3 linked regions of the Homo sapiens genome follow. The protein of the gene in region 1 purifies or fractionates together with the protein of each later gene. This does not show direct contact. Each region holds a gene or a part of one and is shown in the gene's direction. Other genes may lie near its edges. The genes, in order: AMMECR1, PRIM2 and PPP3CC.

What was found.
Region 2: the proteins of AMMECR1 (region 1) and PRIM2 purify together in Homo sapiens (affinity purification with mass spectrometry; one large-scale study listed by BioGRID and IntAct). This does not show direct contact.
Region 3: the proteins of AMMECR1 (region 1) and PPP3CC purify together in Homo sapiens (affinity purification with mass spectrometry; one large-scale study listed by BioGRID and IntAct). This does not show direct contact.

What each region holds. Positions count from the first base shown.
Region 1 is NC_000023.11:110,307,941-110,311,601, reverse strand, and holds part of AMMECR1 (nuclear protein AMMECR1), read left to right. Parts: intron 1-3,661.
Region 2 is NC_000006.12:57,642,519-57,645,039, forward strand, and holds part of PRIM2 (DNA primase large subunit), read left to right. Parts: intron 1-2,521. UniProt on the Homo sapiens protein: Regulatory subunit of the DNA primase complex and component of the DNA polymerase alpha complex (also known as the alpha DNA polymerase-primase complex) which play an essential role in the initiation of DNA synthesis.
Region 3 is NC_000008.11:22,471,919-22,475,579, forward strand, and holds part of PPP3CC (serine/threonine-protein phosphatase 2B catalytic subunit gamma isoform), read left to right. Parts: intron 1-3,035; coding exon 3,036-3,233; intron 3,234-3,581; coding exon 3,582-3,661. UniProt on the Homo sapiens protein: Calcium-dependent, calmodulin-stimulated protein phosphatase which plays an essential role in the transduction of intracellular Ca(2+)-mediated signals. Dephosphorylates and activates transcription factor NFATC1.

The sequences.
Region 1 (3,661 bases):
TAATGTTTCAGACATTGAAACTTGCTCAAAGTTAAAAATGTTAGTGTTGAATAGCTGAGTGGAAATTATATGTCATTGGAAAAAAAAACCCTGTTTTTGTAAAAAATATACATTATCCTGAGTTTCATGGTTGGAAACCAGAAAAATAGAAGGAATAGTCCTATCCTCACAGAGCTTACAGTCCTGTTCAAGATATGATACTATTATCAAAGTTGCTTGAAATACTTACAAAGCAATATATACATGATTGTAGATTAATAAAATACACATAAAATGCATACACATGGAAATGACATGGAATAAAGGAGTGGTCAGGGAGAAGGCTATAGGGAGGGAATAACTGGAACCAAGTTTTGAAATGGAGGAGGTACAGAAATTATTGGTAGAGTCTGTTTGACCAGTAGATCTTGAAGTCTTACTTGGTTGTTCTTAAACCCGTTGCTGTCACCACCACACCCCTTGCCACAGTACTTGGGGATTCCCAGCAGCTGTCTTCAGTCAGCAACTTGCACTCTCAGCATTCTTCATATCACTCCCCTTGCTCTGGTCTCTAAGATCATAAAACTTCAAGGAAATTAAAAGTGGCCTTTGTGTTGAGAATCCTCTGGGGAGGCTGGATAAGAGATCTTGTATCTGCTTATAGTTTCTTGTATTAGGAAGAGAACAGGATTTGCAGAAGAGTCCTCTAGAGTATCAGATGAATTGGGAGAAGAGTCTCAAGATAGGGGAGACTAACTAGGCTTAAGGTTATGAGGGCAGTAGGAAAACTGGCATTGGAAAGTGGGAAAGCCACCCCAGGGGCAGAGTTTGTGAATATAGGAATGTTGCAAAATTGAGAATTGGAAGAAGTTATCAGCATATGCAAGGGTTCATACTCTAGGGCCAGGTTTTGTGTAGGAGTGGAAAGATTGTAGCTCACCTGTTTTTGGCTTCCATCATTGCCTCTTCTTTTCTTGGCTCTGTGCCTAGCTATTCTTGTGCTCAGAAAAAGTTTGTTAAACAGCTCTGTTGAAATGGCTATGAAATTTGATCACAGGCATAAGAACTCTCCTCCCCTTTCCCTCTTCACCTATTCCCAGCTGTATCTAATTTGGGAGAAAGGATGAGAGGACACATCGGTTTATAGAATTTGTATCAAATATAAAGATAGCTGGAATAGCTTTTGGATGAGGACCTGTGATTAGGTGACTACATGTGCATGGAGAGGCACTGCAGGAAAAAAAAAAACAAATTCTGGTTGCTTGGCAGAAGTAAAAGAAGAGAGGCTTTGAACATGATTCAGAGTTCATAAGCCTGGGGAACCATGAGGATGGTGGTGCCATTAAAAAACATGGGGGGAATATGGGAAGAAACAAATGGTTGGGCAGGTGAAATCAGATTTCTTACTATGTGTAGTTCCAAGTGTTGGCAGTTATCAAATGTTATTTCTTTTTGAATTACCAGAACCACAGAGCAGCAACAGAGCTATTGTGATGTTTTAGTTGGCCCCTTGGGATCACTCCCCCACTTTGTGACTTTGAATGGCTCAGATAAGTAGATATCAGTGATAGTTTTCAGCTTTGTACTGCTAGTAAAAATACCTGGCAGAATTTTGGGTTTCTTTAATGTAGGTTTTTACATTTTCTTAGTCTTCAGGCTTATCAATTTGTAAAGCAGGCAGTGATCCTTTTATTTCCTTATGTGTATATCATAGTACAGCCTTGAGCAAGATAAAGCCTCGTGGCAGGCCATCTCAGGAATTCATAATTTCAGAACTAAAGGGAAATTTTTGAAGGACTAGAAGTGCCTTTGGTACAAGATTCTAGGTTGTGTGTCCTAAAGCTTAGAAAGTAAAATAGATTGAATCAAGCTGGATCTGTTTTGTGGCTTTGCTCAATGATGAAGGATGGATGTTATGAACTGATGGGATCAGCCATATTGCTTTAGGATCTTTGCGATCTTCAGTGGATGGGCAAAAGTGAAAAGTTCTGCTTGAGTAAAGACCTACTAATACTAGTTTTTTTCAATAAAGTCTGTGATAGTCTTGATGATTCTTGCCTTTTCCCTATCTGTTTCATTTTACAGATAATCCACATTGTTACCCAAAGCCACATGCAGTGCCGGGAGAGCACAGTTGACTGTTTTATGCAGTATCCTGCCAGAAGATGCTGACCAGTTCTCTAGTAATAGAAAGTAGTGAGATTGAATTAAGAGCCTATATAGTTCACCTTGCCATTCGATATACTTTCACTGTGATCTGTAAGCATATTACATACAACTTTAGTAACATATTTTCTAGTGAGATCTTGGATTGCTGCAAGGTGGTAACAGATTCTCTGCTTTGCTTCAGGTGTTAGTGGATCTTTGAGTAATTCCTATGGAATGGAGTCTCTGAAAAATTGGTTTTGATGCTGTTAGCCTAGGGGTCCCACAGCACTGTATCTGCCTCAAATAAATGCTTATGTACTAGTTACATTAGTGTGTTTCTTTTCTGTGATATCATTATCGCTTATAGTAGCCTAGCAACCACACGGTTAGGTTTAGGTGGTTTGGGGTGCAAATAAATTATATAGCTGGTAAAACTTGGGCCTCAGTACATAATTCATTGTAGCAAGGCAAACACTTTGTGCTGATTTTGAACAAAAGTGAAGTGTTTAGATTGACGGGTGCTTTTTTACCTCCTTTTTTATATGGTAAGTAGAAGATGGCATTGGTGATTTATTCAATAAAGAAGAATCTCATGAAGTCTTTGCCTTTTTTCCATGTTAGAGTAGGTATTCTCAACACAATTCATGTGTTCTCAACACAATTCATGAGTTTCCCTATGATAATGACAAAAACAAATTAAAAAAAAAACTTGCCACAGCTTCTTTTGCATTAAAACAAAACAAGCCAATAAAAAACTTGCCACTAGCTTGGCTGGGTACTTGATTTTGTGGAATAGCTCTTTGATGTTAGGAGTAGGTACAGAGAAAGTCAGTAGTTAAAATTTTTTTTGAGTTCACAGATCCATCTACCCCCACACTCTTCTACTTGTCCATTCAAAAAACCCTCACAAGAACAAAAAGGAATAATATTCTATTTTTCCGACACTAATGAGGTGGGTGATATGTGGTTTGTGGTATACTTTACTCCACAAACTCCTCCAACTATTGTCCTGTCTGGCAATTTTTGTGGGAATTGACTCTCCCACATTGTAGGCATTGGCTGTGTGGAGAAAGAGAGTCACATGTGGTTCGAGGCAGGGACAGAGGGCATATAGGAATCAGGGAGGGAGTAAAATGAATTGTATTCAAGTTAAGTGAAGCATGGATTCAGGGCAGAAAAGGGAGATTGAGCACCTGATCTGGAGCAGGAGTGCTTTTTATGTTTTACATCATAAAAACTTAGATGTCCCTCCTTTAGAATCAATGGCCACAGCATTCTTGTTAAAAAATAATTATTCTGGCTAGGTGCCATGGCTCACGCCTGTAATCCCAACACTTTGAGAGGCTGAGGCAGGAGGATTGCTTGAACCCAGGAGTTCTAGACCAGCCTAGACAACATAGTGAGACCCCCATCTCTACAAATTATATATTTGAAAAACTTAGCTGAGCATGATGGCATGCGCCTGTAGTCCCAGCTACTTGGGAGGCTGAGGCAGGAGGATTGCTTGAACCCAGGAGGTCGAGGGTGCAGTGAG
Region 2 (2,521 bases), on another chromosome or scaffold:
TGCAAGCTCCGCCTCCCGGGTTCACGCCATTCTCCTGCCTCAGCCTCCCGTGTAGCTGGGACTACAGGCACGCGCCACCATGCCCGGCTAATTTTTGTATTTTTAGTAGAGACGGGGTTTCACCGTGTTAGCCAGGATGGTCTCAATCTCCTGACCTCGTGATCCGCCCGTCTCGGCCTCCCAAAGTGCTGGGATTACAGGCGTGAGCCACCACGCCCAGCCCCTTAAATATTATATCTTAAAGTTAAGTCATTTAAATGCCATTTATTAGTTAGGGCAGGGTCTTTTGAGTATCGTTTAGTGTTTGGAATTTGATTTTATCTTTCTTTTATAAACTATACCCATAATACAGCATCAGCAATTTCCAGTTTGGATTCCTTAAAGTAGAAAAGGAACTTGATATATGCAAAGCAATAGGATCTTTCTCCCTCTCCTTCTGTGACTTTCACCTTTTTTTTAAGTGACTTGCTTTTCTTGACTCTTTAAAAACATTTTATTTAGATTTCATAGAACAATTTTTTTTAACATTCATTTTTATTTACTTTTCCCATGGCAACCCTATGACCTAACACTGTTATCTCCATTTCATAGATGGAGAAAATCAGACTTTAAAAAGATTACCCTATTTTGTGCACATTGAAGTCTAATAAATGTATTGCTAACTGACAACTTGAAGCGAGGTATAGAAAATGCCAAGATATTATTATAGCATAAGATACTAGGTTATTTTTGCATGAAATAGTACAACTATGTTTTTCTAATCTTTGTAGCCAAGTTTATCTCTAGAAATAAAATTTATAATGGAGATATCATTATCAGTATGATTTTGCATACAATCTCTTAAAACAGATTTCAGAGCAACTAATGATCTAGTCAGAAGGCCTGAATTTTAATTCAGACAAAACCAGTTACTAATTCTATGACCTTGAATAAACCATCTATTCTCCTTAGGCCTCTGTACATGGAGGAGATTGAATTTAATGGATTCCCCAAGGTCTTTCTAATCTCTGATTCTCTGTTTACAAACTATTTTACAAACTGTAAAGCCTTCTGATTAAAATGTATTAGACAATAAACATACTTTTTGTGAAACACATTGCAAAATGCAAAATTTATATTGGATTTCCCAGTTTTTAATGAATTGGGTGAAAATTGAATGTAATAAAAAAGTTCACAAATGATTCCATTGTTAATAAAAATTATAAAACATTTCAGAAACATTTTGAAATCAAGCAGCTAAGTTAAAAAAATGAAGCAAAGATAAAAATTTGTTCTTAATGATCTATAACTCTTAAAATCAGTCTGTATACTATCCATCTGTTACACACTGGAATTACTATAAAATTAGCCTAACATGTATTAACAACTAGCAAAAGAGAATCAGAGATTCCTAGGGTGCTTAGATAAGTATTACCAGAAAAGACTCATGTTTCTGTCTGCTGGTCCGTCCACCAGTAGGGTTCATTCTAGACCATGGCAGCAACCCCTTTTTCCCTGGCCAATTCATTTTAATCTACTAAAAGATTATACATAGCTTTAATCACACCACGTCTCTTTTTAAGGGTTTTTGGTGACTCTGTGTTGCCTAGAGAATTAGGTCTTGACCACTTACCCTGATTTTCAAGGCTCTCTCAGGCTGGCCCCTGCCTGTCTTTCCAACCTCATTCCTTATTGTTTCCTTGTATGTGCCTTTCATAGTAGGCTATGTGAACTATTTAATATTTGCTTTCCCAGGACATTCCCTCTTTACCTTGCTCATGTGGTCCTGCTGCAAATATTGCCTTTCCCCTCATCATCCCAGCTTTTCACCCTCTCCATCTTTCCAGACGCAACTCAAATAGCACTCCTCTTACAAAGCCTTCCTTGATCTCCTCAGCCGAAATTTCTCTCTACTGTGGAGTGTAATAGGCCTTTATCTGTGACCCTCATCAGTTCTCCATTCTTGGTAGAGGTTTTTAAGTATATGACTTACTGGGTTGGAAATTTGAGTTAGTCAAATGTATTCCTGTATGCTGAATAGTGAATAGTTTATAACACAGTCTTTTATATAGTAAGGCTTTAATTAAATATGCAAAATTATCACTGGTATACACTATTTCTGGGTTCACTTCACCAAATATTTATTAGATACCTACAGTGTGCAAGTCACTTCAGTACGAAGAGTGAGACGTAAAAGGATTAGTTAATACAAGACAGATGAACAAAAGAAATGGAATAACTTCTCAGTTTCCAAAAACTTGATAAATGAAAATACCACCCAAGAAACCAACAGTCACTCACTCAAGCAAAATGATATTTTTGTTGTCAACTCCAACTGCAGAAGGCGAGAAGGCAGGGATTTGAGACTGTGGAAAGTGAAACTGAATATAAGGAGAGATTACTAGAGTGCATAATTTGAAATGATACTCAAAATTAAAGTTTAATGATAGTATTTGAGAAAAAATAACATAAGTTATGAACCAGGCATGTTTGTATTCAGTCACAGTGAAATTTACAAGAAGAGATTTTCTGTAAAAAGACC
Region 3 (3,661 bases), on another chromosome or scaffold:
GAGTTCAAGACCAGTCTGGGGAGCGTGGCAAAACCCCATCTCTACAAAAAATACAAAAATTAGCCAGGCATGGTGGCGCACACCTGTAGTCCCAGCTGAGGACTGGGAGGCTGAGGTGAGAGGATCATTTGAGCCAGGAGGTTGAAGGTGCAGTGAGCCATGGTAGTGCCATTGCACTCCCATCTGGGCAATAAAGCGAGATCCTATCTCAAAAACAAATTTTTTTTCTTTAATAATATATTAAACTTAGCTTACTGTTAAGTTTTTACTTTATAAATGTTTCAGTTTTTAAAAACTTTTGGACTTTTTTGTAATAACACCTAGCTTAAAAGACAAGTACATTGTATAGCTATAGAAAATAATTTTTCTTTATATCTTTATAGGCTTTTTCTATTTAAAAAGTTTAAATTTTTTTTTAACTTTTAGAATATTTTGGTAAAAATGAACACACACACACACACACACACACACACACACACACACACACACTGAGCCTAGGTCTACACAGGGTCAGGATCATGAATATCCCTGGCTTGCCCCCCTACATCTTTATCCACTGGCACACCTTCAGGAGCAGTAACAGGCATGGAGCTGTTATCTCCTAGGATAACAATACCTTCTTCTGGAAGTCCTCCTGAAGGACCTGCCTGAGGCTCTTGAGGAGATGTCACTCTTTTCAGAAATTTGCCCATGGTGTTTTGCTTGGTTTATTTCTATTTTTCATTGTAGATTTGTTTGTAAGCAGTTAATGCAGCATGAACATTCCTGTGTATTAATGAAAACCTTTCTGTTTTTGGGGGTCCATGTTTTCACACTTCCTAAGGAGTTTGTTGAGGTGTGCAAAAGCTTCTCCCAAACCCTTCACTGTGAGTTTTGTTGGGGGTTCTTTTTCTTTCTCCAGCAAACTTCCTTCTCTCTTGCTGCTTCTTCAGCTTTGCATTCCTATTCCAGTTCCCACTCATTAGTCAATTCCTGCGATGTTATTGTGGCTATAACGTTACTAGATGACAGGAGTTTTTCAGCTCCATTTAACTACAGTCCATTGTTGACCAAAACATCATTTTGTGGCACACAACTGTATTTAGCTATTTTAGTGGTTGGGTAGCTGCTATCGTTTTTTCAGTGAAATTTGAGTAGTTAAAATGAGTCAAGTAGTAGCTGAAAGCATGACGAAACTTATAATAGGACTTTCTTTACTTGTAAATGATACAATATGGTATGGCTAGATTAAGTCTTTTAAAAATACTCATAGATTTCAACTTGGTTCCATAAAGCTGGAAGTGGAAACATTGGACATATATCAGAAATTCAATTGAACGCCTCCTTTTAAATTTATGGTTTACAGACTTGTGGCTCTTAGATCCCAGGGGATCTAAAGTAGACTGTGTTATAAAGTAGGCACATAACAAGACAACAGCCAATTTAAAAATATTAAATGAACTTGCTAATTCTCCATGATATTATATATATAAACTTTGTACCTAATGTAAACTGAAGGTAGTTATTAGCATTTCCAGGTTAGAAAACATAACTGGACTTCCCTTATCCACTTTTTTTTTTTTTGAAACGGAGTCTTGCTCTGTCGCCCAGGCTGAAGTGCAGTGTCACAATCTCGGCTCACTGCAACCTCCATCTCCCAGATTCAAGCAATTCTTCTGCCTCAGCCTCCCAGGTAGCTGGGATTACAGGTGTGTGCCATCACACCCGGCTAATTTTTGTATTTTTAGTAAAGACAGGGTTTCACCATGTTGGCCAGGCTGGTTTTGAACTCCCGACCTCAGGTGATCCACCTACCTTGGCCTCCCAAGGTGCTGGGATTACAAGCGTGAGCCACACCACACCCGGCCCCTTATCCATTCTTTTATGCTCTGTTACTACAGCAAATTATTCTCAGACATAGCTCCATCTTGGTAGTAGTGTTCTTGTTATTATCAGTAACAAAGTACATTAAGCTACTGCCTTTTGTTTTATTCTGTTTTGTTTTGTTTTATTTTGAGACAGTGTCTTGCTCTGTTGCCCAGGCTGGAGTTCAGTGGCGCGATCTCAGCTCACTGCAACCTCTGCCTCCCACGTTCAAGCGATTCTTCTGCCTCAGCTTCCCGAGTAGCTGGGATTATGGGCACTTGTCACTACACCTGGCTAATTTTTGTATTTTTAGTAGAGGTGGAGTTTTGCCATGTTGCCCAGGCTGGTCTTGAACTCCTGACCTCAAGTGATCTGCCTGCCTCAGCCTCCCAAAGTGCTGGGATTACAGGCGTGAGCCATGGTGCCCGGCCGAGACTTCTAAAACATAGGTGTCATTAGGACAGTTCTATAGGAGAAATAAATGCCATTTTAGTATTATGACTACTTTTCTTTCATTTTCTTTAACCATAGTTTCATTTTTAACACCTGTTCTATAGATAGAAAAACAAAGATACTCATGTCATCTAGTGTCTTGTCTCATTTATAACTTGTTCCCTGAATCAGCTTCAAGTCTTTCATGTTTATGTGTAAAACATAGGGCTGGGCGCAGTGGCTCACTCCTGTAATCCCAGCACTTTGGGAGGCCGAGGCAGGTGGATCACCTGAGGTCAGGAGTTCGAGAGCAGGCTGGCCAACATGGTGAAACCCTGTGTCTACTAAAAATGCAAAAATTAGCCAGGTGTGGTGGCATGCTTCTGTAATCCCAGCTACTCAGAAGGCTGAGACAGAAGAATCGCTTGAACTCAGGAGGCGGAGGTTGCAGTGAGCTGAGATCGTGTCACTGCATTCCAGCCTGGGTTGACAGAGCAAGCCTCCATCTCAAAAAAACAAACAACAAAAACCATTATAATTTATGCACACACAAATATTTAAAATGACTGTCACCTTTTTATACTTAGAATTGATCATTTATGATACATAGTATCTTAGAATTTTTTCCCCACGTACTGGTGCTGTGGATGTGAAATCATGGTGATTTATTAGGTTTAATTTGTCATGTAAAAGAATTGTGTTCTGTTTGTTCTCTATACATTTAAATATTTTAAATTATTATTATTATTTTTTTGTAGCTGTCCCCTTTCCTCCAACCCAACGGCTTACTTTCAAGGAAGTATTTGAGAATGGGAAACCTAAAGTTGATGTTTTAAAAAACCATTTGGTAAAGGAAGGACGACTGGAAGAGGAAGTAGCCTTAAAGATAATCAATGATGGGGCTGCCATCCTGAGGCAAGAGAAGACTATGATAGAAGTAGATGCTCCAATCACAGGTATAAAAAGTCTTTGCATGATACTTTTTTACAGTATAGATTTGCATGAGCAGTTTTGAGAAATAATTACAAATAACCAGCTAAAAAGTGGTGTGGTAATTTTTCTAGAAATTATGAGACAGTCAGGATTGGTTAGGATATTTGTTGTTAATTGAAGAAATACAATTTTAAGTGTCTCATATTTCCAGTAGAACTATTTAGTATGAGTAGATTGACTACAGTTTTACAGCAGTCCTGTCAAAAGCTGGAGTGATTTAAGTTAGAAGTTAAACTGTGATCCCTTTTGGTGTAATGCCCTTCGTCTTCTAAGGTATAATTTCTCACATCACTTTATGCTTTTTTTCCTAGTATGTGGTGATATTCATGGACAATTCTTTGACCTAATGAAGTTATTTGAAGTTGGAGGATCACCTAGTAACACACGCTAC